Linked DNA regions of Homo sapiens: regions 2 and 3 are each linked to region 1. Evidence: fine-mapped expression QTL. A gene starts in region 1. Each other region holds a variant in brackets. All regions are shown on one strand. Distances are between the middles of the regions. Region 1 holds the start of EOGT (EGF domain specific O-linked N-acetylglucosamine transferase). Region 2 overlaps UBA3 (ubiquitin like modifier activating enzyme 3). Region 3 overlaps EOGT (EGF domain specific O-linked N-acetylglucosamine transferase).

What was found. PIP is the estimated chance that this variant, and not a neighbour inherited with it, causes the effect.
Region 2: its variant is fine-mapped to the expression of EOGT in skeletal muscle (GTEx, PIP 0.98).
Region 3: its variant is fine-mapped to the expression of EOGT in monocytes after interferon gamma (Fairfax 2014, PIP 0.95).

Annotation. Positions count from the first base shown.
Region 1 is chr3:69,009,871-69,020,098 of GRCh38, reverse strand. EOGT (EGF domain specific O-linked N-acetylglucosamine transferase) reads left to right here and starts at 6,415. Exons shown (of 18, transcript NM_001278689.2): 1 at 6,415-6,525; 2 at 7,300-7,584; 3 at 8,108-8,163. EOGT-DT (EOGT divergent transcript) reads right to left here and starts at 6,979. Exons shown (of 1, transcript NR_185971.1): 1 at 2,046-6,979. It overlaps TMF1 (TATA element modulatory factor 1), which reads left to right. Exons shown (of 17, transcript NM_007114.3): 17 at 1-272. RefSeq lists silencers at 6,188-6,487, 6,548-7,097.
Region 2 is chr3:69,054,352-69,064,579 of GRCh38, reverse strand. It overlaps UBA3 (ubiquitin like modifier activating enzyme 3), which reads left to right. Exons shown (of 18, transcript NM_003968.4): 7 at 469-512; 8 at 1,077-1,141; 9 at 1,443-1,598; 10 at 2,401-2,503; 11 at 2,653-2,766; 12 at 7,271-7,324; 13 at 7,765-7,801; 14 at 7,887-7,968; 15 at 8,297-8,397; 16 at 8,517-8,580; 17 at 8,675-8,729; 18 at 9,055-9,850. The coding sequence ends at 9,143. Among named protein-coding and RNA genes, the nearest start is that of TMF1, 7.1 kb to the right of the region's middle. The variant G/C (reference allele first, on the strand shown) is at 6,438.
Region 3 is chr3:68,972,816-68,983,043 of GRCh38, reverse strand. It overlaps EOGT (EGF domain specific O-linked N-acetylglucosamine transferase), which reads left to right. Exons shown (of 18, transcript NM_001278689.2): 15 at 172-233; 16 at 3,257-3,376; 17 at 4,609-4,711; 18 at 5,280-7,819. The coding sequence ends at 5,426. Among named protein-coding and RNA genes, the nearest start is that of EOGT-DT, 35 kb to the left of the region's middle. The variant TTG/G (reference allele first, on the strand shown) is at 5,718.

The sequences.
Region 1 (10,228 bases):
AAAAAGAAAACTGTAGATGTTTTATCTTGTTTTAATACTGTATGTTTAGTACGTATACATTTATGTTCTAGTGTATCAAAATTTTTCATTTTCATTAAAGTGAATCCAATTTTCCATATTCTAGGTCCATTTTAAACCATGAAAACTTTAATCACATATTTTGTAAAGGGCTGAAAGTATGATTTAAACTACAGATTGATATATTTTAATTCTAAATGAAAGGTAATGTAAATAAGCATGGATCTGATTGAATAAAGATTTTAAAATAGTAATAGTGTATTTCATTTTTAACAAAATTTATAGTGGTCAATAGTAATGAGTGAAGAATGAATATTGTTTTATGAAAATATAACTTGTTTACATTTGAGATTAATATTTTAAGAAAATGAAGCCCTAATTTTCTATAAGTTACATTATTAGTATTAAGTGTAGTTTTTTTTTTTTTTTTTGACAGAGTCTCACTCTGTTGCCTGGGCTGGAGTGCAGTGGTGTGATCTCAGCTTACTGCAGCCTCTGCCTCCCAGGTTCAAGTGATCCTCCTGCCTTAGCCTCCCAAGTAGCTGGGATTACAGGTGCGCACCAGCACATCCGGCTAATTTTTGTATTTTTAGTAGAGATGGGTTTCACCATGTTGGCCAGGCTGGTTTCGAACTCAAGTGACCTGCCCACCTTGGCCTCCCAAAGTGCTGGGATTATAGGCATAAGCCACTGCGCCCGGCCCTAAGTTCATTATCTTCTAATGAAGATATGTTTTCGGAAAACACAGTGCTAAGAATTTACTTATAACTAGCTGGTAACTACTGTAAGGATAGTTTGTGTCAGTTTTTAATCTTAAGCAATATCAAGACATTCTTCTAAAAGTCTTATGTTTCTGTATTCAAGTAATAACAACAGTTAAAATAAGTTATCCTCTATTTCTGAGTTCATATTGCTTGGATTAAGCTCTGTAACCTTTAAAGTACTTTTAATCTGTTGCCTTTATACATACGCATTTTACCTTTTAGCAAATTAAGATCTTTTTGTAAGACAGACTGGAAATGAAATGTATTTCTCCTTAGTACTTAAATACCTTTTCTCAAAACAAAACAAAAAAACTCAAAATGCTTCAATAATTCACAAATACGGTAAAGAGAATTTACTCTTAGAACTGTCTGGAATTCCCCACACTGCCCTACTCCCAAGTAGCCTAAATTTAATATTTAGAATCGCAAATAACATTAAACAAGAACGTAATGGCAGGTTTTTCTGTTTGTTTAATATTAAACATTCTTCTTGCTTTTACAGGTATAGGCACAGCATGGTAGATAGAGGTATTCCTTCCATTTTTATAAAATGCCATGCTGATTTGTCTGTTTTAAAATTACAATCTTAATTTTTAAAAATATACGTTGTTCAAAAATCTGTGGTCAGGTTGGTAATAGGAAATATAGTCTTTTCTTCTTTTTTCTTTTTTTGGGAAACATAGTCTTATTTTGTTCCAAACACTGTGTAAGGAATTCACTTATGTAGGATTATAATCCCATAATCATTGTTCTGAAATCCACAAAGCTCTAAAAACCATACATATTTTAATACATTTGCTGTTAAATCTACTTCGGTGGTAAAGCCTGCACTGCACTGACATAGGGCTATGTATAGTCTTTAACTCATTTGGTGTGAATACTCATACATTTTGCTGCAGAAATACTGTGTGAGATTATGGGGTACTCACCCAGGACTCAGTGGGGGGGGGGGGGTATTAAGTTAAACGATGGGCATATCTATTCTATTTTTTAAAGTTCAGACACACACAGGGACCCAAGGATTTTGGAAAAGGAAGTGTGTACCCACACTTTATCATCAAGTCAACCTTTTAAAATGGATGCCATTATCACCCCCATTTTTAAAAATAAAGATTAAGTAAATTGCTCAAGGTCATATGGCAAGTAAGTGGCAAAGCTGGGATTCTAATTTGTGCAGTTTGGCTCCAGAGTCTATGATTTCAATAATTAATTATATGGTGCTACTTTTCCTACTGCTTTTCTGTAAAATCATAAGCATATAGATCAGTTACAGCCAAAATTTATTCATTAAAAATGTCAACACCTTTTAATTATGGTCTAACAGTTGGATGAGAGAACCAGTATACTACATTCTGCTGATATTGTTAGCAATTTACTCATTGTAATTTGTTGGATTTGTCTCAAATTTTTTAAGCCATGCATTCTTCCATCTCTGTCTCTCTTTTTCTTAATTCTTGCAATTTCGATGAAGTTTCTTATTTGTAGAAAAAACTAGGTCATTTGTCCTATAGTTTCCCTCCATCTGGATGTTGATTTCTTACCTTTTGTTAGTGTGTTCCGCCTCCTGTGTTTAAATCTAAAGGCAATTATTTTTCAACAAAAATACTTCATTAGGTGGAAGTGTATTCTTCCAGCAGGAGACAGATAATTCCTGATGGTTTCTCAGTTGTGATAAAGAAATAATTGATGATCACTTCTTAAATCTATTAGTTCACAGAGCTTGTGGAGTGATATTGTCATTTCTTTTTCATTTAGTAGTTGGAATGTTTCCATAAAAAATTTACTTCAGTTATTTTGTTATTTGCATCATAATTCATACAGGAAAGACAGTATAAATATTCCTGATTCTTTCCCTTTGTTTACCAGTTTTCAGAATAAGAGTTGGTTTCCTTCTGTCATTAAAAATGAACAGCGATACCTTTTTGGCTTGCATGTTTGGTTGATTGGTCGTGTCTGATATGATTACTTAAATGTATCTGTCCTTCATCCAATTACAGTTACCTTTATTTATGTTTTAAATCATCCTATCTTTGGCCAGTAGGAAGGTTTTCAAGGTGGATCCTGAGTCCTTTTGATATGACCCTAATAGCCTTTTGATTGCTTTGCTGCTTCCTGATGTAAGATGTTGCAGGCTTATCTTGTACATTTCCTGCTCCAGACCCAAGATCATCCATTGTTCTATGGAGTCAGTGTTTCTTTTAATGGGAAATGGTTGGTAGAGATCACAGTGTGAGCGCAAGGGGGTGCTTCTTCCTCCTGGGTAGCTTGTCTCTAGGCCTTTTCAATGGAGCACGTAGGAGAGATGTGTTTTTAAAGATTAACCATACTGTTAATCATACTGAGGCCTCCAACTGAAATTCAGAACTACAGGATGTTTATATAGCCTGATTAAGCTTTCATATTTCTATCTCATGTCAAAAATTTCAGCTTCAAAGGTACCATCATAATTACTTCAACTTGGTGTATCCCATAATACCAATATTGCCACCAACAATTTGGTTACGGAATGCAGTCTACAAAAGAGTTTTTTTGTACTTTAGTCCTGAGAATACATCCCACTAAGTATATACAAATTAAGTTTTAAAGTCACTTGGGATAGCTCCTCTGGGTGATATGCCACAATTGGAAAACATTTAGGTTCATTTAGTTTCATTTTACTTTCAAGGATTGCTTTTTAAAAACAGAATTTTGCTTTATAATGTAACATATTTACATGACTTCAAAGTCATGTCTTCACGCCAGGCGTGGTGGCTCACGCCTGTAATCCAAGCAGTTTGGGAGGCTGAGGTGGGCGGATCACTTGAGGTCAGGAGTTCGAGACCAGCCTGGCCAATACAGTGAAACCCCGTCTCTACTAAAAATATAAATATTTGTCAGGCATGGTGGCGCATGCCTGTAATCGCAGTTACTCAGGAGTCTGAGGGAGAAGAATTGCTTGAACCCAGGAGATGGAGGTTGCAGTGAGCCAAGATTGCACCATTGTACTCCAGCCTGGGCAAAAGAGTAAGACTCTGTCACACACACACACACACACATACACACACACACACACACACACACCAAAAAACAAAGTCATGTCTTCTTTGTTCCTTATACCCCTCCTCTTCCCTCCTTGCCCATATAGTCATTTTAAATGTTAATCTACTTGTAAAATAATAATTAGTAAATATATATGTGTATACACATGTATACACACATATTCCTCTTAGAAAAATGATATTTACATATTACATATCCTTTTCCCACTCAATATTCTGTAGTGTACAGAGATATTTCTCAATTCCTTTTTATGCATGCATAGTTTTACATTGTATGGATAAACCATAGTTTATTCAACCAGCCTTCTATTGGTAGACACTTGAGTTTTATGTCAGCTCAAAGAAAATTTAAATTCTAACATTGGTATTTTGGAGAGAAATTCTATTTGAGAATGGCTGTTACAGTAAGAGAGACTCAATCTCATGTTCAGGTTTATCATATCTGGTTTCCTGTAAGTCTGAATGACCATTCAATATGTAGGTGTTTAAAATAGCACCACATAGCCAGGCGTGGTGGCTCACAACTGTAAACCCAGCACTTTAGGAGGCCGAGGCTGGAAGATCACTTGAGGCCCGGAGTTGGAAACAAGTGCTGGGAACATAGCAAGAACCTGTTTCTACAAAAAAAATAAAATAAAATAGTACCATGCACATGTCATACTGATTTTAACCTTTTTGTATGTGACAAAAATAGGATGGTAGCAAGTAGGCTGAGGAAGCTTTTTTTTTTTTTTTTTATGAGACAGGGTCTCACTGTGGCCCAGGCTAGAGTGCAGTGTCTCAATCATGGCTCACTGCAGCCTCAACCTCACTGGGCTCAAGCGATCATCCTGAGTAGCTGGGACTACTGGCATGAGCCACAGTGCCTGGCTTGAGGAAGCATTTTAAAAAATTACTGTCATTAGTGTGGGATGGTGAAGTATGCAAAGTATAAAATAATAGAGCAGTAATTCTGTTATAGGAAAGGGGTCCCAATCCAGACCCCAAGAGAGGGTTCTTGGATCTCGAGCAAGAAAGAATTCAGGGCAAAGTGTAAGCAAGTTTGTTAAGAAAGTAAAGGAAAAAAAAAAAGAAAGTAAAGGAAGAAAAGAATGGCTACTCCATAGACAAAGCAGCCCTGAGTGCTGCTGGTTGCCCATTTTTATGGTTATTTCTTGATGATATGCTAAACAGGTGGATTATTCATGCCTCCCCTTTTAAGACCATATAGGGTAACTTCCTGACATTGCCATGGCATTCGTAAACTGTCATGGCGCTGATAGGAGTATAGTAGTAAGGACTACCAGAGGTCTCTTTCATGGCCATCTTGGTTTTGGTGGGATTTAGCCGGCTTATTTACTGCAACCTGTTTTATCAACAAGGTCTTTATGACCTGTATCTTGTGCCGACTTCCTATCTCATTCTGCGACTTAGAATGCTTTAACGGCCTGGGAATGCAGCCCAGTAGGTTTCAGCCTCATTTTACTCAGCTCCTATTTAAGATGGAGTTGCTCCGGTTCACATGCCTCTTGACAGTTCCCTTAGAGGCAAAATCTTTTCAATAAAAAGAATAAATTAATACTGTAAAGTGCTTTAAAACAATGTTTGGCACATGTTAAACACCACATGTTCTTGCTGTTATTATTTGAAAAAAATTCCAGGTAAGATTCCTAATTTAGCAGGTCACTAATGGAACTTGTAACAATTCTTAAACAACATTACTTTTAAAAATTACGTAAAAAGCATGTAAGCCTTTGGAAACAAACTTGTTTCCTTATGATCATATTATTTAACTTCTGGTGACTATATTCATTTGAGCATGTTTATTTTGAAGTCATCACCTTCATATAATCAGTTCAACTTTAGTCACTATTTAATGATCAACTCTACTGTGCTGTAGATGGAATACTAGGCCTGGGGGAGCTTAGAGGAAAAGACAGTGGGGGATGGGAGTTCAAATAATTATAAGCAGTAATAAAGTAAATTAACAAAACCATAAAAATTAAACTCCACAGAGTAGCATTTGAACTTGATGAGTTTACGGATAGGTAAAACTATACTGCTTTTAAAATGTGTGTGGACTCCAAAGTATCCTCACCATCACAAAGTGTATTCGGTGAACGATGTTCAGTCCCCAAATTTGGAAGTTAGGGCGGCAACTTCTGCTTGAAATAAGACAAAAGTAAAAATCCACCTCAGTGCAACGCAGAAGACACGAAGAGTCAGGTTTTCTACCCACCCCGTCCTAACATCCTCTGAGCGCTTTAACGCTCTCGCTCAAGGAGGCGCGGGCTGCTGCGATGGAGATGGGCGTCCGGCGCCGGCACGTGCCGTCGGTCTTTCCGGCCCTGGTGAGGGAGCTGGCGGACTCGCGCGAACGTTCGCGGGAGAACGCCAGGAAGGGCAGATGGTTCCTCGACTCTGAGCCCCTCCCTGCTGCGCTCGCCGGGTCGAGGCCGCTCGCCGGGCTGAAGCCGCTCCGAGCGTCGGGCCCCGCGCCCTGGCCCTCCTGGGTGTAGTCCCGGTCCTGCCTCTGCGGGGCCCGAGCCCGCCCACGGCGCCGGCTGGCCAAGGTGTCCCAGCTGCTCCTTGGCGCCCCCTGGCCCAGCTCCCGCGCCCGAGGTTTCCGGTGAGCGGCAGTAGCCGGTTATGACGACTCCCTCCTCTGGAACAGCCGCCGTCTCCTCCGCCTCCTCCTCGGTAGTTCACGGCTGCCCCGGCTCCAGGTGGGACTCCCCCGCAATCTGCGGAGCCTTCCCCCGCTCTCCTTCCCGCCGCCGCAGCGCTCTGCGCTGTTCTTGCCCGGGTGGTAGCCGCTCCCGGCGCGGCTTCCCGGAGGGCTATAGCCTACGCACGCACTCCGCCCGCGCCTTCCCATTCCCTGCGGGCCGGGAGGCGGGCGTCGGAAGCCGATCCTGGCCCTCCCCGGCCCCGGGCGCCCGGCCCCTTCCCAGCGCCCGGAGCGCAGGCGGGCCCCGGGCCCTAGCCGCGTTGACCAGGTTTCCAGCCGGGGCGGAGCCGCTCCCCGGGGCCCCTCCCAGGCGCGCTGGGGACCCGGGGCGCCGCGGTGCACGGTGGCGGGCGGCCCCGGGAGATCACCGACCCCGAAGCAATCCCTGGCGGCGCCCGGGGTCCGGAACCCCAGCGCGGCGTCTCAGCCGCGGCGGGGTGCTCGCCACTGACCCCTCAGCCCTTGGCCGGGACTGACGTTCAAGCGGACAGCTGGGCTCTGCCGGGACTGACGTTCAAGGGGCAGCCGAGCACTTCCTGAGCCCTGCCTGGCACCCGCCGAGAGACTTTTTGGCACAAGTAGGGGCCAGCCGTTGAGGTGTCATTCGGGGTCTCACGTGTTGAACTTTCCATTTGCCCACTGCCGTCTTTAAACTTTTCCAAGCTCTCTCTCTCTGCGACATTGCCCCATTTCGCCCGCTGTGTCAACCCCAGGTTTTGCCTCCTATCCATCATCTTTCAGATGTTTCCCTTTTTTCCTTCCTCATTAGGCCTGTGGAAATCGAATCAAGGGTTTCTGGAGTGGAGTGATTCCAGCTGCTTTGAGCTGAAGGAAAAGTAGCCTGGCCAGTAAAGCGTCCGTGTGCTGGAGGAGTGCAGCCACCCATCCCGGCGGGCCTTGCAGGACGACCGACACCAGGAAGGCTTTGTGCCAGGCCCAGCAGCCACCCCCAGCCGCCTTATGCAAGTGGGTACATGCCCTCGCCAGACGCCAGCTTTCTGATCTGCGTCTTTAGATTTTTTCCATCGCCTAAGCGTTACTTCTCCACTGATCGGTGAGTTTAGTGATGGCCAGAGCTCACTGGAGGACAATGGACTTGGATAACCAAAGGTCAGGGCTTGGTCATAACAATGACTTTATTACCGGGAAGGACGAGTCAAAAAATAGGAAGGCCTGGGAACCCTCAGGCTCGCCACTCTAGGTGGGTAGCCCTGTGATTCAGCCAGTGGGATTACTGCTGTGAGAATGGGAAAGTTGTTTGCTTCTGGGAATGTTTGATCCACTAAGTATCCTGTTGGCCAGTTCCAGTGGATGCCTGTAGAAAGTGGGCCACCTCCTCCCGTTCCCCATTGGAATCTGGTCCGAGTTGCTGTGTTGGGGGTGGTGCCTGTGAACTCGAGTATAGCAGTGTGGTATTCATTAAGGAAAAGAAAGCGCACCACCGGCCAGGCCTTCTGGCTGAGAGTTATCACGTTACATTATTTTCTTTCTTAATATTTCCTTTAATTCACAACATCATCTGAATGATCAGGTTTACTTTAGCATCCTTTTAAGGTAATATGTTTCATTTCTGACAGGTTTTAGAGACCTGAAACATCACAGAAGCTTCTGAGTGGTTCTGAAGATTCAAGAGGTATATATTTTTATTACAAGTAGAGTCATTGTTACTATTAATATGTGTTTTTAAATTTTTATAAAACTGCTGTCAACTCATTCTTGGATAAAAGCTCCAAGTGAAAATGTTATTGTAATTCAGATCAGATTTACAGCAGATAACACCATACTCTTGAGGGCCGCCAAAGTGAAAAACCACAATACTTAACTACTCCAAGGGGGGAAAATGGGGGAAAAAGGATTCCTTTTTGGTGTCCCCACTGTTCACTTAGAATTCCATGGCCTTGGAACTTGAGGTTTGATGGAACATAGCAGTCAATTTCCTTTTCTTCTTTCTTTCTTTGTTTTTTTTTTTTTTTGAGACAGAGTCTCCCTCGCATTACCCAGGCTGGAGTGCAGTGGCGAGATCACGACTCACTGCATCCTTGACTTCCCAGGCTAAAGTGATCCTCCCACTTCAGCTGGGACTACAGCTGATTTTTTGTATTCTTAGCAGAGACCGGGTTTCATCACGTTGCCCAAGCTGGTCTCGAACTCAGGGACTCAAGCAATCTGCCAGTCTTGGCCTCCCAAAGTGCTACTATTACAGGCCTGCAGTCTGTTTCTAAAGGTTCCATCTTCACAGCCCATAATCAATGAAGACTGATTTCGAAAGTTGGGTTTTCCGGTATGACCCAGGAAACAGCAGTCCTAGCTGATGAACATCCAGTGTGTATTAAGACTCTGTCATCCAGTGGAAAGAGCACTTAAAAAAAAAAAAAGAACAAAGATCCCACTAAAGTGACCTGAGAATGGCAGGATCATTGTCTGGGATATATAGGAGAAATCTGGTCCAAGAGATTTAACACTTACTGGGTGAATTAGAAATGCAGTGAGGTTTCTGACCATTATCACTGTTCACAATGTAAAGGCATGATGGGAGAGCTTAAGGGCACAGTCTTTGAGGCAGACTGCTTAGTGTCCTGGAGTTTCTAAGTCTTAGCTATTATAGCTGATTATTATACCTACTAGCATGTAAGCTTCACAAGGGCAATGAGTTTAGTTCGTGACTGCACCTTCATTGCTGTATCCTGAGTACAGAAGCGCTCCTGGAACATTGTCTGTGCTCATACCTTGATTATGATTATAATTTTTTATTCAGCAGACACACACTTGCTCAGAGCCATCCCACTCCCTTTGCTCTCTCACAGATACTTTTCCCCTCCTCATCATTCAGATCTCAGCTTTAATGTTATTTAGGCCCCTTCTCTGCCCCACATGGCTTTAAACTTTTATTTAATAAACATTTCCATAGCATTTAGCATGTGCCAGATAGTTTTCGAAACACTTTACCAATAACTAACTCATTTAACTCATGACAGCTCTATGATGAAGGTTTATTATTATTTCCATTTTACAGATGGGAAAGCTTAGGTGCAGAAAGGTTAAGTAACTTGTTCCAGGTCTTACAGCTGGGAAGCTGCAGATTTGCGATTCAAATCCAGGTGGTTAAGCTTTAAATGTTCACCATGCTATGTTGTCTATCATATTACTTTATTTAGTTTCAGGTATCACTAAACTGGATCCTATCAAGCCCTTCCATAATTTTTGTAAGTTAAAAAGTTTTATTGGAACACAGCCTCATCCATTCTTTTATAATAGACCATGGCTACTTTTTTGGACAGAGGCATTGTTGTGTAGTTGCCACAGAGATCTTATGTCTGGCAAAGCCAAAAATATTTACTGCTTCTCCTTTACAGGAAAAGTTTGCTGGCCCCTAGTTGGTTTGATTCACAGGCCCAGTCATCAGCTGAAGTTGTTTATTTGATTGCTTGTTTATGACAGTTGTAGTAGGTTTAAAGGCACCATGAGAGCAAGGCTCTTTCTTGTTTTGTTCACCTCTGTATACCCATTTGCTAACGTGGTGCCTGGCACCAAGCAAGTGCTCAAAAAAAATTGAATAAAGGATCATTATTCAGTGGGATAGCAAAGTGCTTTGTAATTATACTTAGCCCTTGACCCTTTGTTTTTTTTTTTTTTTTGTTGTTGTTGTTGTTGTTGTTTTGGCTTTTAAAGGAAATTTGTTAACAAAGTTGTCTTCATTT
Region 2 (10,228 bases), 44 kb before region 1:
AAAAAGCTGTTGAAATTTTCTGTATGTTAAAAAAATGAGCTTTGCAGTAACTCTTAAAATCACCTAGCAAAATAGGAACTATAATGTGCATCTTTCCTTCACTAAAACATTTATTGCATCTCTTCTTGATGCTGATGATTGAGGACACACATTCTGCTTTCCTGGGGCTTATGGTTTTATATAAAAACCAAAGCAAAGTAGAAAGTATACCTCCTACCAAGGGCATAAATATAATGATATAGGGGTTCAGGAATGAGAAAAAGTAAGTAGTTAGGGGAGGAATGGCAGAAAAGTTTTGTCAGAAAGGAGAGTTGTGTTCATTTAGTCAGATTCCTTGAATTCCACTGATGTGAACATTGATTACTTATTTCTTGTTGTAAATATATGCAGAGTGTGTTCCTTATGGCATTGTCAAATTCATTTTAGAAATTAAAACTTAGCTGCTTAAGTTCCTTTACTTGTATTCAGACATTTCAACAAGATTCAAGATTTTAACGACACTTTCTATCGACGTAAGTTTTTTACTTGAAATTAATGCTCACTAGATTCTTAGAATTTTTTAGTTGGTAGCTATTCAAATATTGCTAGCTATTTCAAGGCTATTTCTTCACTTGCTTTCCTCTCTCACTGTTGGCTTTTCAGTAATGTTGCTGATAGACTGAAAAGAGAATGCTAGTTTTAGCTGACATGACCAGCTACAAGTTTCTATGCTTACCTGAATGAGAGTTCACTCAAGGAATTGGAGCTCTGAGAACGTATGTGGGATTACAGTAAAAAGTGCTTGTGGTTTTTTTGTTGGTTTCTTAGAACGTGCAAATTGTTTTCTGCAAGTGCTTTTTTTTTTTAATTAGTAAACTTTATTTTTTAGGGCAGTTTTATGTTCACAACAAAATTGAACAGAAAATTTTTGAAAACTTGGGTTCTCATAGAGCTTCCTGTTCCCACAAACACACTACCTTCCTAATCAACATCTTGCACCAGAGTGGTACATTTGTTGCAGTTGATGAATCTACATTGAAAGATCATCATGCAACTACATATTTAAAAACTAAAGTTGCTTTTTTTTTTTTTTGTAGAATTTCATATTATTGTATGTGGACTGGACTCTATCATCGCCAGAAGATGGATAAATGGCATGCTGGTAAAGACTTTAGTATTGTTATAGTTCTCTGAAGTTCTTGCTGCTGTGCTTCACATCCCCAAAATTAGAATTGATATATTTTTGAAAAATCAGAGTTTAATTTTTAATTAAGTATATTTACTTCATTGTTTATTGCCAGTCATTGGTTTTCAGGTGAAGACACAAATTGTTATTATAATCCCTTGATTTGATACATTGGTATTCAATAGCACAACCGACTCATAGGATTACTTGAAAGCATACTTCTTCTTTTGAATTCTTATCCCCTTCTCCTTTAAAGCCCTTCAAATTGTTTTCCTAGATATCTCTTCTAAATTATGAAGATGGTGTCTTAGATCCAAGCTCCATTGTCCCTTTGATAGATGGGGGGACAGAAGGTTTTAAAGGAAATGCCCGGGTGATTCTGCCTGGAATGACTGCTTGTATCGAATGCACGCTGGAACTTTATCCACCACAGGTAATCAAAAAAGCACCTGCATTTCTTTTATAGTATCTTGGCATGGAATTAGGGATTAATTATTAAGTCTAGTTAATATTTAGGATTGTTAATTAGAAGTGGCCGTATTTTAAAAATTACACTAAGAAGAAAGATAAAATATGAAATTCTGCTCTATTTGAGGAAAGATATGAACCGAGTACATTGTTTTGATACTATTCTGCTTTCATAATTTATTTGTATTTTTTATTTGGGGAGTAGGTATCAAGTAGAATTACAAAGTTGTATATTGATGTCAAGCTGTAATCTATGTGGTTTTCACCTGTATTTATTTCAGGGAAATAAAGATACCAGGGATAAGAATGATCTTTCCAAGGATGGGGCTTTTTGGTTTACATATCCACTTTAAAGAACACTTGAAATTTTGAATAATAAATGTAAACAATTTTATGAGTATTCACTTGGGATTCACTTAACTCTGAACTTGCTTTTGTTTTGGTTTGCTTTATACTTAAATATTAGGTAAAAATAACAAGGTGTTCATATTTGAGAAAATCTGTTCAGTATTTTTCTTCTCATAGTCTAACAAAGCTTAAATTTTATACCTTGTAAATGTAGGGCAAACCTGTCTTTACAGGCAGTGCAGCCTAAGTGAAGTGACTCAGTTAATCTGTATTATAGTTTGAGAGGCATTTTTAATGGTATACAATATTTTGAGTTGAAACAAATTGTATGAAATTGTTAAGAACTAGATCATAACTGGAAGTTGCATTTTAAAATAATTCGTTTAAAATTCACTGAAAAGGACAAACTGTGGTTTTAGGTTAATTTTCCCATGTGCACCATTGCATCTATGCCCAGGCTACCAGAACACTGTATTGAGTATGTAAGGATGTTGCAGTGGCCTAAGGAGCAGCCTTTTGGAGGTAATAAACCTAATTTAATAATCTAGAATTACATAAAATACATATTTTTTCTATATTATTCCTTTGGATAATTTCATTAAAAACATTGTTTTGTGATTACGTATTCCTGTCTTCTCTCTCTCTCTCTCTCCCTTTTTTTTTTTAAACAGAAGGGGTTCCATTAGATGGAGATGATCCTGAACATATACAATGGATTTTCCAAAAATCCCTAGAGAGAGCATCACAATATAATATTAGGGGTGTTACGTATAGGCTCACTCAAGGTAAGTCAGCAAATTGTCATGAATTATGATGTTGGGATGACTTAGGGCTGGGATGCTTTCAGGAGAATAATCGATAAGTGAGTTTAGACAGTACCATCCACTTGAAGTTCAGTAAAGGTACCATGTAATTCATACTACTTATTAGCTAGGGGGAATTTAATAAAATTATTGAATCTTACTTACTTAGGCTATAAGTCATCCAAGTCAAACTGTCCATTTTATCTTCCACTGAATTCATCATCTCTTAGAGACAGTCTATTTCACATTTGGACAGGACTGTTAGACAAATATTCTATATATTGAACAGAAATTGTCTTCAGGTCAGCTGCGGTGGCTTATACCTGCAATCCTAGCACTTCGGGAGGCCGAGGCAGGCGGATCACCTGAGGTCAGGAGTTCGAGAGCAGTCTGACCAACATGGCAACACCCTGTCTCTACTAAAAATACAAAATTAGCTGGGTGTGGTGGCACATGCCTGTAATCCCAGCTACTCAGGAAGCTGAGGCAGGAGAATCACTTGAACCCAGGAGGCTGAGGTTGCAGTGAGCCTGAGATTGCGCCACTGCTTTCCAGCCTGGGCAACAAGAGCAAAACTTCGTCTCAAAATAGAAATCGTCTTCAGTTTGGTCTGACTGTTGTCCCAGTACTGTATACAGTCTAATTCCCTTTTAAGTAATAGCTTTTAACATATTGAGGACAGTGATCACATCCTTTGCAAATTTTTATCAGTGCCATAAACCTCCCTAGTTAGTTCCTTTAACCCTGTATTAGTTCATTTTGCTTTGCTATAAAGGAATATCTGAAACTGGGTAATTTATTCAGGAAAGAGGTTTATTTGGCTCATGGTTCTGCAGGCTGTGTGAGCATGGCAAAAGCATCTGCTTGGCTTCTGGTGAGACCTCAGGAAGCTTTTACTCGTGAAAGCTAAGGGGGATGGCAAGGCATGTCATATGACGAGAGGGAGCAAGAGAGAGAGGAGGGAATACCAGGCTTCTTTTAATAACCAGCTCTTGCGTGAACTTAATATCACAGGGAGGGCACCAAGCCATGCATGTGGGATCTGCCCTAACGGTCCAAACACCTCCCACTAGGCCTCACCTCCAACACTGGGGATCACATTTCAGTATGAGATTTGGAGGGGACAGATATCCAAACTATATCCAACCCTTTGATATGTTGTACAGCTTCAGGTTCTCATGTTGTTTTTCTGTAACCATATTCCAGCTATCCATATTGGTTAACTGGAATATAGTTAGAGAAAACAACTTTTCCTAATTGTTCAGGCCAACATGCAGCATTATGGGACTGGTCTTAACTTTAGATAATAGACTTCTGATAACTGATGCAGTCTTAAAGGAGAGCAGGTATTTATGTTGTTGTTTTTTTGTTTACATTGATGCTATACTTTGGATTCTTTGATGTTACTAGCCACTGAAAGCTGGATGTTTTGTCCACATATGCAATTGCTAAGCCACATCTGCCTATTATAAACTTGGCAGTTTGGGGAGTGTCTTTTTTTTTTTGTTTTTCTTAATATCCAAGTATAGGTCCTTACAAATGTATTCTTAAAATTCAACCTGTTTTTCTCTCTTTATATGTATTCTGCCAACTTACCTGGTGTTTCTAGCTTCATTTCACCTGTTTTGATAATTATATCCTTTATTTCTTTTTCAAATAATTGATGAAAATTTTTAATAAGACTGAACTCTCTGAGAACAGACATCTGAATCATACTTCTGGCCAGGCCCTTTTAGGTTTATCTCATTCTGTTCATCAGACCTTCTTGGTACTTTGTATTTCTTTATCTTGTTCACAAGGATGTCATGAAAAACCTTTCCAGATCCTCTACTGAAGCCTAGGTATGCTATCTTTTGCATTTTCCTGAGTTGCTAAGTTAGTCATAGTAGCCAAATGAGGCTACTCCAACATGATTTGTCTAGTAACCAGTCATGCTCAATCATAGTGATCAATGTTTCCAATCTAGTTATAGTTTCCTTTTTTAGAATTTTGCCCAAGATCATTACCAGGTTCACCAGAATGAGCTTTGTCTTCTTTTTGAAAATCTGCCATTTCTCTCCTGTGATTATTTCCTTACATTTACTGATCTAGTAATGTCATTTTAAAATTCCATTTATACTTACTCCTTGTTGCCCTCTGCATTCTCCCTACACGGACCTGCTTTGTGTTCCTTGAACACACCAAGTTCTTCTGTACCTTAGAGCTTTAATACTCCCGAGTTCCTACGCCGGGGATGGTGTTTCCTTGGATCCCCTCAGGCTGGCTCCTCATCTCTTAGGTGTCTGCTTAACCAGTTTTCCTAATCATTCAACCTAAAATGACTTCTGAGCCATTCACCATTCTATTTTTTTTGGTAATTGCTCAGAACTGATTAATGGTAGCCTCATTCTCCTATGCAAAGAATATTTCACACTTAAACTATCTTACATCCTTGCCCCAGGACCAGGACCATTGCCATTGCTGTTTACAAACAGCTTTTTCTTCAGGTAATTGCATGGCTGGATCTCTCTCATGGCTTAGGTTTCAGCTCAAGTTATCACCTCTCCAAGGAGGCCTTCCCTGACCATTCTCTCTAATGGACTGCATCCATCATTCTCAGTCTAACACATACCTCATTTTCTTCATAGAACTCTTCAATATCTGAGGTGTTCCAAGTATTTACTTTTGTGTTATCTCCCCTATCAAAATGAAATCACTATACGAGCAGATACTTTTTTTCATTGTTACTATGCACAACACCTAGAACAGTGTCTGGAGCATGTGTTACACATATTTGCTAATTGTTAGAATTAACAAACGAATTCAGTGTGTTCTAACCAGAAACTGTAAACTCCCCATTTTAATATGTAGTCTCATCCATCCTTCTTTACCTTTTACCAGGGCTTGGTGTGTACTTTCTAGGCTGGTGAATGAGGGCCTCAACAAGGAGTACAGAAGGAGAATTGGAAGTGAAGTTGCACAAGCCAGTGGTTCTATCTATTCTATGATTTTTCCCCTTGTTCTCAGTATAACAGAAAGTTGCCTTTCTGCCCACTCTAGCTTTTTTTGGTCGAAGGGCAGGGGTATGGGTGGCAGGGGTTGGAGAAAGAGGGGAGTCCTCATCATTTTGGCAATGTTCTTACTGGGCAGTGTCTCTTACACGCTTCACTGTTTGTGTCTACCACTTCCTCCTTTCAGTACATCCTGCTACATGTGGTTCAGTGGAGAGCTTCCAGTTTAACCATCATGCAGTTTATCTCTTTTTAAATTTCCTCTTCTCCAAAACTATAGAGAATCATATGGTCACAGTCAACTTTTTAAAAAAGCTTTCCAGCCTTCGTAACTGTCTTTCTTTCATGTCTTCTTAGCTACTTGCTGTTTTTCCTTAAGTTTTTGAAACCTGACTATACTTGGAGTCTTGGGAACACATCTTACAGTGTTTCCTCACACTGTGAGATAAAATGGCTACTTTTTCTTGAAGTTTTTGTCTTCTAAAATGAACAATTCAAATATAGTTATAAAATGGAGTATTTATTTTGTACTTTTAAAAAATGGTTTAAGGTGAGGCTTTGTTTATTCCTAATATGTGAATAATACTGATGTGAAAAATGTGAGTCCCAGCACTTTGGGAGGCCAGGGCGGGCGGATCACAAGGTCAGGATATCGAGACCATC[G/C]TGGCTAACACGGTGAAACCCCATCTCTACTAAAAATACAAAAAATTAGCCAGGCGTGGTGGCGGGCCCCTGTAGTCCCAGCTACTTGGGAGGCTGAGGCAGGAGAATGGCGTGAACCCAGAAGGCGGAGCTTGCAGTGAGCCGAGATCAGATCACGACACTGCACTCCAGCCTGGGCGACAGAGCGAGACTCTGTCTCAAAAAAAAAAAAAAAAAAAGAAAAATGTGGGGTTGAAGTAGAGAACTGTATTTAATATTTTGTGTAGCCTCGGTTGTAGAGTAAAAGATAATAAAGGGCAGCTTTTCTTTTTTTTGAATGTTTGTGAATCAAGTGACTGAAGCTGTTACAGGAATAATTAGATAACACTTATTCTTCATGGTGTATCAGTTAATATCTGTGTTCATATGCCAACCCCACCTCTTGCTAAGTATATAGCTGTGGATAAATTACTAAATTTCTCTCAGTCTCACTTTTCTTATGTTTAAAATCAGAGTAATTAACATGAAGATGTTGTGAAAATTAAATAATATTTAGTCTTTACATTGTGCCTGGAACATAATACTCTAAATTGTTAACTATTATGATGTTATTGTTTCACCTTTCTATAGCACTTACTTGAGAGAGTTTTCTTTGCTACTGTAGCTTAAGATTCTGAATTTACTACAAAGTGATGGGGATGTGAAAGATTGTTTCATGGTTAAATTTATTTTCTGGCTTGAAAGTCTGAAAAATCAAGTTTTAGAAAATGGTATTTAATAATCATGCCTTCTAATTTAAGAGAACTCTTTTATTTTAAAGAAATGACCATATTTTAATTGATATGTTTTTTCAGGGGTAGTAAAAAGAATCATTCCTGCAGTAGCTTCCACAAATGCAGTCATTGCAGGTGAGGAAGAAAAGGCCATCACTTAGTTTATTTTGCTTTCTTTAGTTTTTGACGTTGCTGCAGCTTTTTTGTGTTGTAGGAATTTGATATCTTCTTGGATGGGTTGTGTAACTAAGCTGTCGAAAAAGAACCAGTTATTAGACTTTGCATATTTTTTGTCTTACATTATGTCTTAAGTTACCTGCAGTAAAGAGACGTTTTAGTTCCATATGAAGCAGGCCATTTATTAATCTGATAAACAAGAAAAACATGTAGTGTTACTCTATTACATGAATCACACAAAACAATGTAAAATTTGTTACTGTCTCAGTTTTTAAAAATTGGAATATGTATTTTTTAATGAAGAGCCAATGTAAATTTATCTGTTCTGATTTATAACTGACTTTTAACATGCCTAATTTCCATTGAGTTAAAGCACCTGTATTTTCTCCTCCCTTCAGCTGTGTGTGCCACTGAGGTTTTTAAAATAGCCACAAGGTAATAGGTTTCATTTTTAATATGCATGTAAATTTATGTTTTGACTTGGTTTAATTATATAAAGATGAACATTTTTTCATTACAGTGCATACATTCCCTTGAATAATTACTTGGTGTTTAATGATGTAGATGGGCTGTATACATACACATTTGAAGCAGAAAGAAAGGTTAGTAGTATTAAGAACACATTTTTGATCATGCATATTTTGATTTTTAAATATTATTGGTTAGAAATTTGAACAAAGTCACCCATACATTTTCTAACTTCCAGAACTCTACTTATTATATATCTTTTGCTTTATAGCCTGAAATAACTCTATAGCGAAGTAATTTACAAGAAATGGTCTATTATGAAAAGCAGGCTTTAAAGCATAAAAATTTTTTTATAGGAAATATGCATGATTATAAAACAACCTGATTTTTATTTTATTGTTCATAAAAGAGACTAATATTGGTGCATGTGCTGCTGTAATTTGTTGTGTATTATGTGTGTAGGAAAACTGCCCAGCTTGTAGCCAGCTTCCTCAAAATATTCAGTTTTCTCCATCAGCTAAACTACAGGAGGTTTTGGATTATCTAACCAATAGTGCTTCTCTGTAAGTATTGTAGATTTTTGTTATGTTGTAAAAATCATTTTTGTGATTTTTGAAACCTTAAAAAAATTATCTTTTGATAAAAATTATGTTTGATACTTCTCTCTCATCATAATCTTTAGGCAAATGAAATCTCCAGCCATCACAGCCACCCTAGAGGGAAAAAATAGAACACTTTACTTACAGGTTATCAATGTGTATTTTAAATTTTTTTCAGAAAATTATATCAAGTTTTATTTTACTTTAATGTGTCTTACATTAAAGTAATTTTGTTTTCTAGTCGGTAACCTCTATTGAAGAACGAACAAGGCCAAATCTCTCCAAAACATTGAAAGGTATTTTACATAAGGGTATTTACTAATCATTTTCTTTCTTTTCTCTCTTTTTGGTGAAAGTAATCAGTGCTTGTTCTAGATTTCCTCTTAATGCCTTGTATATGGTCAGGTAATAATTACTTACAACTTTAGACATATTAATAGAATTAATTGCTCTTTTAGTAGAATATTTTAAAATCTCTAAGAAATCAAATATTACTTTGATTAAAGAGGATTGGATTTTGATGTTTTTCTAGACCGTAATACTCTGTAGTTTGTTTACATGTGTATTATCCTTTCTGTTGAGTTTTTTTTGCTTGTATTAATAATATTTTTTCTGTTTTAGAATTGGGGCTTGTTGATGGACAAGAACTGGCGGTTGCTGATGTCACCACCCCACAGACTGTACTATTCAAACTTCATTTTACTTCTTAAGGAAAATCTCCACATAATAGAAAACTCATGGAAATAATATACTTTGTGGATGCTAAGAAGTTGAATCGATGTCATTTTTAGCAATAGTGTTGCCACGATTTGTCTTTTTTTATATAATGAACCACTCTTTTTTAACTTTGTAACCTTCCCTTGAAGACAGAATTTTGGTGTTGGTGCTTGTAAGCATTTTCATTAATAATATGAGAAATGATACCTGGAGAGAGAGATTATGAGCAAATGTATTGCTTCTTTTAGAGGAGGAAGCATACAACCTCTTTTGTGTGAATTTTGTTATTATGGTCAAAGAATGCATTCCTAAGTTTTCATTTGAGTACCCAAATACACAAAAGGTGTCCCTTTAAGGAAAATAAAGAATTAAGTTTTAAATAACATTACATTTTACAATCTGACATCTGGAGTATATTGAACATAGGCTATTTCTTGATATAACACTCATTTAATTGTGGCCATCCAAATGAATATTATTGCAGAATTTATCTTGTTCATAATGATTTGTAAATGGTGTTATAGCTGAATACCTGTGCATGAAAATGGGCAATATTTTCATCTGTTTACTTGTAGTGCCATAGAGGCCAATATGCACAATATTAACTAATGCCAAGACATGGCTGTTTAAAAAATTTAATGTTCAAACAGTTATCACTGATGCTTTTGCACTATTTATTAATAAAATCATATATTGTGTACTTCTTTCACTGAAGTTTTTAAAAGTACATTAAGGGTAATCAGTAGTTCCATGGTAATATAGGAATAATTTTTAAATGTGTAGCAGAGTTATATCAAATTTTTATTGCACTTAATACTTTTGCTACAGCAATTTCTATAGTAAAAATTTACTGGTTTAATTTAACTTTCTGTATCAATATAATTTTTTTTTTTTTTTTTTTTGCGACAGAGTTTCGCTCTTGTTGCCCAGGCTGGAGTGCGATGATGCAACCTCAGCTCACTGCAACCTCTGCCTCCCCGGTTCAGGCAATTCTCCTGCCTCAGCCTCCGGAGTAACTGGGATTACAGGCGCCTGCCACCATGCACGGCTAATTTTTTGTATTTTTAGTAGGGACGGG
Region 3 (10,228 bases), 37 kb after region 1:
TATTGACCTGAATGATATTTATTTATTTTCTTTTTATTTGTTGTTGTTGTTACCAAATGATATTTAATATCTGAAATAGTATATGCAAAAAAAGAAATTTTAGGACTCATAAGGGAAAAACAGAAGTGAAAGAAGGAAAAGAAATGCTAAATGTTTCTCTTTTTTTCCCAGCTTGTAAATGCACTGAAAACAGTATCTACATTTGAAGTCCAGATTGTTGATTACAAGTATAGGTAAGTAATAGCCAATCTCAGCAGACACTGTCAACTTTTGCTTGGATGAGGTCAAGGGGGCTAGAAAGCATTTTTCCAGTGGGAGCCATTGGCATTTGTAGGCCCAGAAGGGACAAGTAGACACTACAGATGAATGAAATGGGCAGGTGAAGTCCCTGGTAACAAGGGCAGTTACTCTTTGGCTTTCTGGGGCCTGATGTTGTCACTCCATCTCCTTATTCAAAAGAAGTGATGAATTCAGATTTTCATTTAAAATTTCAGAATTTTTTGTTTGTTTGTTTGTTTGTTTTTGAGACAGAATCTTGCTCTGTCACCCAGGCTGGAGTGCAGTGGTGCCATCTCAGCTCACTGCAACCTCCACCTCCTGGGTTCAAGTAATTCTCCTGCCTCTGCCTCCCGAGTAGCTGGGACTACAGGCGTGTGCCACCATATCCGGCTAATTTTTGTATTTTTTGTAGAGACGAGGTTTCACCATATTGGTCAGGCTGGTCTTGAAGTCGTGACCTCAAGTGATCTGCCCGCCTCTGCCTCCCAAAGTGCTGCAATTAAAGGCATGAGCCACCACACCCGGCCTAAAATTTCATAATTTTAAAAAATTGGCAGACTGGCCACGATGGCTCACGCCTGTAATCCTAGCACTTTGGGAGACTGAGATGGGTGGATTGCCTGGGCTCAGGAGTTCAAGACCAACCTGGACAACATGGTGCAACCCCATCTCTACTAAAAAATAAAAAAAATTAGCCGAGTGTGGCAGCGTGTGCCTGTAGTCCTAGCTGTTCAGGATGCTGAGGCAGGAGAATGGCTTGAACCCAGGAGGTAGAAGTTGAAGGGAGCTGACATTGCACCATTGCACTCCGGCCTGTGTGACAGTACGAGGCTCTGTCTCAAAAAAAAAAAAATTGGCAACTAGTTCAAAATTTAGGTGTTATAAAATTTATCAAATATTTGATAACATTATCAAATGTTTGATAACAAAAAAGTTATCAAAATTTAGATGTTATAAACCTAATTTGCCCTGCCTCCTGCCAGATTTCAACATCTGACTGAAAATTATTTATATGGGGATAATTTGAGGGTCAGAATAACATGAAATTTTAAAAAAACTTACCAAATATTTACATTTCTTTTAAAACTCTTAACACAACTAAAAGGCTTAGAAAGACAGAATATGCCTATTATTCACAGTTTGGGTAATTCCTGTTGCTAGAATTACATCTTCCTGGTAAAAGTAGTACATGTTTCTGGTTGAAAAGTCAAGCAGTATAGAAAAGATCAAAAGGAAAAGTGAAAACTTCTGTCTCCATGTCCACCTACAGTCACAGCTGTGTTTCCCAAATCTAACACTGTGAACACTTTCCAGTTAAAAGAAGTATACATATCCCAGCATGTGGGTATCTAATATAGATACACTTAATTTCAGAGAATGTTGGCATGGGAGCTTTGCACTTCATTCATCATACATTAGTTCATTTGTGCAATAAATCTCTATTGGGGACCCATGAGCTGGTCACCAGTCTCAGCAGTAGGAATCCCATTATGGCGGATGGCATAGCCCTGGTCTTGAGGATCTCAGACACTGAATAGAGGTAAATAGCAATTGTAAAAACAGCTACTATTTATCGAAATGTACTTTTATGCTTACTTGCTTTATCTCATCTCACGCTTTCAACAGTCTTCTGAGTTGGCCCAGCTAGTCCCATTTTACAGATTATGTAAAATCTGCTGCGCTGAAGAAATGTTGTGTCAGTGTTGCTTGAAGAAATGAGTGAGCCAATATGGGGCCCCCACATCAGTCCCAAAACCATTCACCTAGATGAGGCTGGGAAGAAATGGAAAGAACTGGGCAGGGCACCTCTGAGGCTGTATCATTGACTGGCTTTTAAGGATATGTTGTAGTTTCTCAGATAAGCAAGAATGATAATGAATTCGTACCTTGCCAGTCTGCGGGAAATACTAGTAACATGTTGGCATGGGGATTGGTGAGTGCTGACCACAGGCGTTTCCACAACTGGCAGTGCAGGGGTATGTTCACCTGGGTGAATGGCCGTCCTTCCCTTGGCATCAGTTCACATTCCTGGAGAAACTGAGGCACATGTTCTCGTTGTGATACACATACACATGGAGCTGTCATCTTTTTCCTATGCGGAGTTTTTGTTGTTAGCTGGTGTAAAAGGGAATTCAGCTTCCCTTCGTAGATCCAAAATAATCTTGATCATTTATTTTTCTTTACTTTGGGTAAGTTGGGGCTGGGAGATCTCATTTCTTTCTGTTTATTCAGAGTGTCACCCTTATTCCAGCATTTCTCCCTAGCCTCACCTCAGTGAATTGTTTGGGGACTGATTTTTGGTTCAAAGTTTACACACTGGTTAGTGTCTTGGATTTAGAGAACACTTGTACAGTCCTAACATGCATAAAATTGTGGATTTGTCTGTTCCAAAGGCAGGATAATGCCCTGGTGGTATCTGAGATCATTTTGGAGGTACCCAGAGGGCATTATAAAAACTTAAATCACACAAGGAGAAATGTTTCTTTTTAAAAAGTGCTTCTATTGTCCTAAGGAAATAGTTTTTAATTTAGTGCTAGTGTGTCACAACATCTCTTTAACACTTGCCAATTTCTCTTTTTCATGAAGAAAGAGCAGGCCTCAGGCTCTGAGCTTTGTCTTGCAATAGTATCTACCTCGATTTGAACACTACTTAGTTTGATTATATCAATTTTTACAGTTTTGTTGATGTCATATGTCACTGCTTTTCCATTTAAGACAGATATTAAAGTTTCCTTTAAAAAAAGTACTTAAACCTAAAAGGATAGGTGAGCTTACTTAGAAAATATGTTAAATTATTAAGAAACTTATTAATTACTAGAGCGCACTTGAAATTGGCAAAAATGCTTCTTAAAAATGGAATGTGGTTTAAAATGGGCAATACACTTTTATAAATATCCTTACTGTGAATCATGAACTAACTCAACCTAATACTTCTCTCTTCTCCCCATCTCTCTCATGTTATTCTGTATGTTCACAGAGAACTTGGGTTTTTAGATCAACTAAGGATCACACACAACACGGACATATTTATTGGAATGCATGGAGCTGGTCTGACCCATTTACTTTTCCTTCCAGACTGGGCTGCTGTATTTGAACTGTAAGTGTTGGGAGGCAGTTTTACACTGAAGCAACTGATAATGCTTTTTATGCATGCTAAAGCTTTCATTCTGAGCATCAAAAGGCTTAATATTTAATCATTCAAAAAGAGAAGTCACATCATATAGACAATCTGGAAAGAAAAGAGGCCTGAAGCTAAAAATACAAAGTCTGCAGCCTGCCATTGCACTTAGTAAGCCAACTACCCCTTCATCTTCCCATCCCGAGCATGATATGGAAGATGTGAATCTGTGGTTTCCTTATTCTGAGTTTGTTCCTGCATACCTCCCAAACTCTGAGCGTCTTCTTGCAAACAGTGTAGTTATTGTGTTAAAAGAAAGCATTTATGTCTCATGCACGACATAGCTTCAAAACACAAGCCAACCACTTAACTTAGTGCTTGCTGATCCCATACACAGGGAAACTGAGGCCCTTGGGTGTTCATGATTTGCCCAGGGCATACTTTTAACTCAGTGGTTGGTTTATGGAGACATGACCTTCCCTCTCATAATAATTCTGCTGTTGGCACTGTGCTCCATTTTAGGTCTTGAGACACTAATAGCAGTTACTGTTACCTGTTTCCCCCCATTATGTCTAAATATCTGGGTTCTATGGTTTCATTTTAAAAGTGATTTGACTCTGTATTTAAATAGGAGGCTATTTAGGAAAAAAGTTGTCATGAACTTCCAATGCCCTGCAAAACATTTCAAAAATATATATGATATATGTAGAGAAATAGCCAGATAATGGATTCTATCTCTGTCATTTCTCTTATAGAGAGAGAAGGAAGGATGGAAGAAAGGAGAGAGAAGGGAGAGAAATGTAACTGAGAAAACTCAAGCCTTATAGTCTAATGGACCTGGGTTCTACTTTTGCATCCTTCACTATTTAGTTATATGACCTTGGAAGTGTTACCTATCCCCCTTGCCTCTTTCATACATTTAAAGACAGAGGTATTATAAGGTCATGCCAAGTCCATAGGCAGCAGGCCCTATTGAATAAGGTCAATTCTCTCCATTCCATGACCCTATTTTGTTTTTTAAAAGTTAAGTTCATTTAGTTCAGAGAATATTTTTACATTCTCTTCCTCAGTCTTGTTTACTGTCTTCCTCAGTCTTGTTTACAACCTTTTGCAAGGACATATTTGGGAGCTGCATTTTATTTTCGCAGAGTTGTTGATTTGGAAAAAACCTTGGACAAAAGCCTCATGTTGTGACACCCTTGTGTCCTTAGGTACAACTGTGAAGATGAACGCTGTTACTTAGACTTGGCCAGGCTGAGAGGCGTTCACTACATCACTTGGCGACGGCAGAACAAAGTCTTTCCTCAGGATAAGGTAAAGTTCAATCACAAAACTTACCTTGCTTCATTTTTAATTGGTTTAAAGTATCCAATTATTGATATGAAAAATGGTTATTGAACTTCAGTGCTGCAAAGATAAACTGTTCTCTGGAATACTGAATTGTTTTATTTTATATTTGCAAATAGGAGAAAAAGGGGAATTAAGCAACCTATATCTTTAATGTTACAAAGGCAGCTTCGTGAAATTTGGGCTTAGAAAGATCTATTAGATTATATATAGAGACGGGATCAACAAGCAACAGCCCTGTGGGCAAATCCAGCCCATGACATGTTTTTGTAAAGAAAGCACAGTCATGCCTGTCTGTTTATGCACTGTCTCTAGTTGTTTGTGCACTTCAACGACAGTGGAGTAACTGTGACTGAGACCTTAGAGTCAGCAGAGCTGAAAATATTTATCATCTGGCCCTTATCAGGAAAAGTTTGCTGGTCTCTGATGTAGAACATAAATTAGTTGCCTTAACCAAAGTAACATAATTTTCCTGCTGTAGAGAAAACCATGCCCTCATTGAGTTATGGATTCGTGTTTTGGTTTATTTTCACAGGGCCACCATCCAACCCTGGGGGAGCACCCGAAGTTCACCAACTACTCTTTCGATGTAGAAGAATTTATGTATCTTGTCCTTCAGGCTGCAGACCACGTATTGCAACACCCAAAGTGGCCATTTAAGAAGAAACATGATGAGCTATAAATATGCTGAGTCTGTTTGCAAAAAGAGAGTGTTTAAACACTCCAACACCCAGACTTAGAATTAAATCAGTAAAGCAATCTGTTATTTCCTATCCCCGAATTACCTTTTCTATGCCAAAACATACCTTCAGGATATTGTTATGTGTTGTATAGATGTTAAGTGTTTCATGTGGTTTTTGTGTCATTGCTATTTATCAATAGCAATAATTTTGCACTGAAAACTTTTTATAGTTCAAAAATTAAGCATGGACTCCCCAGTATACTTTAACTTTCTTTCTTTCTTTTTTTTTTT[TTG/G]GAGACAGAGTCTCACTGTCACCCAGGCTGGAGTGCAGTGGCATGATCTCAGTTTATGCAACTTCTGCCTCCCCAGGTTCAAGCGATTCTTTTGCCTCAGCCACCTGACTAGCTGGGATTGCAGCCTGCACCACCACACCTGGCTAAATTTTTGTTGTTGTCGTTGAGATACAGTTTCACTCTGTCACCCAGGCTGGAGTGCAGTGGCATGATCTCAGCTCACTGCAACCTCTGCCTTCTGGATTCAAGTGATTCTTGTGCCTTAGCCTCCCAAGTAGCTGGGATTACAGGCGTGCACCACCACGCCCAGTTGATTTTTGTATTTTTGATAGAGACGGAGTTTCACCATGTTGGCCAGGCTGGTCTCGAACTCTGGGTTCAAGAAATCCTCCCACCTTGCCTCCCAAAGTGCTGGGATTACAGGTGTGAGCCACCACGCATGGCCCTGAACTTTCTCTTTTTAGGAATACCAAAGTTTTCAACTTTTTCAGCTTTAGAATTTGTAAATATTTTTGTAGAATATCATATGACTGTAATTCCAGAGTGTTCCAACTTGTTTATGATATATTTGGGTAAATTTACAACTGTTCTTTTATTTGCCATAATCTGGTTATAACACTGTTTGTGGTAGGAAAGGAAAACATGCAAAACATACACACACACACACACACACACACACACACGCAGAGTTGTGATTCTCAGTACCAAGCTATAGGACCATGTTATAGATCAGCGTTTAGTCACCTCCAGGTTATATGCATCGAGAACCTGAATAAATCATGCCACTATATTAATTTATATTACATGTTTCATATTTAAATCATGTTTTCCTAAAATGTAGCAACTACATGTGATAAAAGCAAATTAGAACATTCTGTAGGACTGTCTTGCATACCTTCTGTCTGGTTTCCACTGATTCCTTCTTAGCCATGGAGAGCATTTGTGATTAATTAATTTATATATGAAATAATGGTTTCCATTTTATGCGAGTATTTGTAACTGCATATACCAGTGCGTGTGCGTCTACCTCTGTCAGCATGAAAGTATTCCAGTCTTTAATTTCAAAAACTTCAAATTAGCCTCATGAAGAGAATTTTTCCCTGTGAAAAGTAAGACCAAGAAAAAACAAACTAAAGACATGTGACTTATTCAATGAAAGTGAAAAAGAAGCTCTAAAACAGTGTCATTGATTAAAAAGAATATCTGGAATGTAGCCCCACTCTTTGAGTGGGATTCATTTCTTACTGCTTATGAACTTTCAATTTAGTAGTCAGAAACCATGGATTTATTTTACTGCACAATGTGAAGTTTACATTTTATTAACACTTGAGTAGTCTGATTTAGAGACTAGTTACTTCTATTTTTTAAAATAATGGAGTAACAAATTACAGAATAGCTAAATAATTTTTTAAAAATATTTTACAGTTGTAAAAAATATCCATCAGAAAAATGACACACAAAACAAAATATCTGGACCTTTACAGAAGACGTTTGCTGACCCCCACTTTAAAGGATTGGAACAGTCTTCTAGAATTGAGGAATATTTATTAAAATACCTGTAAAGAAAATAGTGAATCACTGTAGCAATGGCTTTGATTCAGACCTTAAAATCACATAAGAAGAATTACAACATGTTATGGATTTTTAAGTGGCAGGTATTGTAACTGTTTTTTGTGTGCAAAATACTGAGTAACCACTGGGAAAATATTTCAGATGAAAGGGATGACAAAAGCATGTTGCGCTTTGCATCAGCAAGGCATTGACTTCTGAAAAAATGATCTGAAAAAAGTTTCACCGTTTGTCTTCTTACCTCATTTTAAGAAGCATGTGAAAATGGGATACTATAGACTACTGAGAATTTCAGAAATTGAGAACAATTTCATAATAAAACGGCTATATTTGAAGAGAGAATACATTTTATATAAACAGGAAAATACATTTGACACTTTATGGAATTTTATGAGACTTTTTGTGGGAACAGAAGGTCTTCAAATTGTAAAATGTAAAGATTGCTCTTTTTATTAAGTCTTTAACAGGGATGTATTTCATTGTATGTTTTGGGTATGGCTTTGGAATAAATCATTTTATATTTTATTTGAATATCAGAACCATTTTTAAGGTTTTCTGTGTCTGAATGTTTCTGTGCTTCCTTTTTGGCAATCTGGTAGCTCTTAGATTATAAAAATTAAGTACCTCTCTGATGAAGAATTCAGTTTGATCAAAAATGCCTTTTATTTAGCAGTTTATTACATGATGCTTCTATAAATGTTATATTGTATAATCATTACCAAAATGACATAAGAATTATGGTTCCTGTTTTTCATGTGAAGAATGCTTCCCTAAAGATCACAAGCCTTCTGATTCCACGTTCACAGTCTTCCATTCGTTTAGGGAAGTCTTCCATTCCACTCTAGGGAAGTTATGGGACTTCCCTGAAGATCACAAGCCTTCTGATTCCACGTTCACAGTCTTCCATTCGTTTAGGGAAGTCTTCCATTCCACTTTAGGGAAGTTATGGGACTTCCCTGAAGATCACAAGCCTTCTTCTGATTCCATGTTCACAGTCTTCCATTCGTTTATTTACTTGTTCATTTAGTAAATATTGATTGGGCTGCAACTTTGTATCAGTTACTATTCTAAGTTCTGGGAATACAGCAAAGAATAGATAAAAGTTATTGCCCTCATGGAGCTTACGTTCTGATGGAGACAGACATTAAACAACATAATGGAGCTTACATTCTGGTGGAGACAGACGTTAAATAACATCAATAAGATGTACCGTGTGCCAGATCCTGATACGTGCTATGGAGAAAACCAAAGAAAGGGATGTGGAGTCTGGGGTGGGGTGGAGTCCTGCACACTTAAGTAGGGGGTCAGGGAAGCCTTCATTGACTCAAGACTAGAAGGAGGTGAGGGATGGAGTTATGCAGATAACTGGACAAGGAGCATTCCAAGAAGCTAGAAGAAGATGTGCAAAGACCCCAAGGCAGAAGCATGCCTGGTATGTTTGAGGAAGAGCAAGGAAGCCAGTGTGGCTGGTGTGATCAAGGGCAGAGGAGTAGGAGGCAAAGTCAAGAGATAATGCAACAAGGGTGTAGATGGCAAGGTTCTGATGAGATGGAAGCCATTGAAGGGATCTGAGTAAAGTAGTAAAGACCTGCCTTATCTCTAACACACTAACTCTAGCTGTTACGCTGAGAATAGGGTGTGGAGGGATGTCTTAGGAAAACAGATTCTGGGATGGAGATTTGAATGCAGATAGTTTTTGGGGGGAAGGTTCTCACGATCAACACCTGTGAGGGTGTAAGGGGTCCAGGCTTGGGCAGAGGGAGAAATTGAGGGGCAATGCCAGGTGAGGCCTCAGCGGGGTGCTGTAGGGCTGGAGTGGCCTTTCAGTGAGGTCCCCAAATGAGGCAAGAAATGCACGAGGCAAGAAATGCACGTAAGTTCAAACAGGGGCCATCCCAGAGAGGGGTGGGGCCTTAGCAAGGCCACTTCCTTCAGCTGAGGGCAAGGCCTGGTGAGGAGCTCAGCTGTGACCCATCAGCAGCCAAATGTCAAGCAATCTGGGGACTGAGTGCTTCAGTCTGAAGGGGATCTCAGCGGCACATTCACTAGCGGGTGAGGTGGTGCCGAGGTGCCGTTTAGCTTGTCTTACTCTCCCTCCTGCTTCCTGTCAACTGAAAGTTGGATCTAAAGTCTCCTTAAGATTCAGATTGAATGTCTGTTTTTAAAGAATACTTATAGTTGATACCGTGTACTGCTGACTGAATATTTTAGGCTTTGTGGGCCACATATGGTCTCTGCTGCGTATTATTATTTGTTGCCCTCCTCCTGCAATCTTTTAAAAATGTAAAAACCGTTCTAAGATGTTTAAATAGAGGTTAAGGAACTTGCCCAAAGTCACACAGCCAGTAGCAGAAGGATTGGATATAGGGCTTTCTTGGTGAAGGAATTTTGAGTTAGGTAGGGATGTTTACATGTAATGCAGGAAGGAAGGAGGTCGGGGAGGAAGAAAGGGAGGAAGGAAGGAAGGGAGGGAAAGAGAAGGGAGAAATTAGTTGGGGGATATAGAACATGGAAAAAACAGTCCTGGAGTTGGGCCTTTTCTTGCCGTTAAAAAACGAATTTTTTGTTTTGTTTTTTAGTTTTCCGACAGGTCTCTCTCTCTCACCCAGTTTGGAGAGCAGCAGCGCAATCACAGGTCACCGTAGCCTCAAACTCTTGGGCTCAAGTGATCTTCCTGCCTCAGCTTCCTAACTAGCTGGGACTACAGGCATGCACCCCCAGGCCCGGATAATTTTTCATATTTTGTTGAGATAGAGTCTCACTATGTTGCCCAAGCTGGTCTCAAACTCTGAGCTTAAGAGATCCTCTGGTCTCAGCCTCCCAAAATGCTTGGATTACAGGTGTGAGCCACCACTCTTGGCCCAAAATAGTTCTTTTTTGAAACCTAGTCAGTAGAGAGAAAATACGGAAAATACTTGCTTTTTCTAAACTAGGAGCATA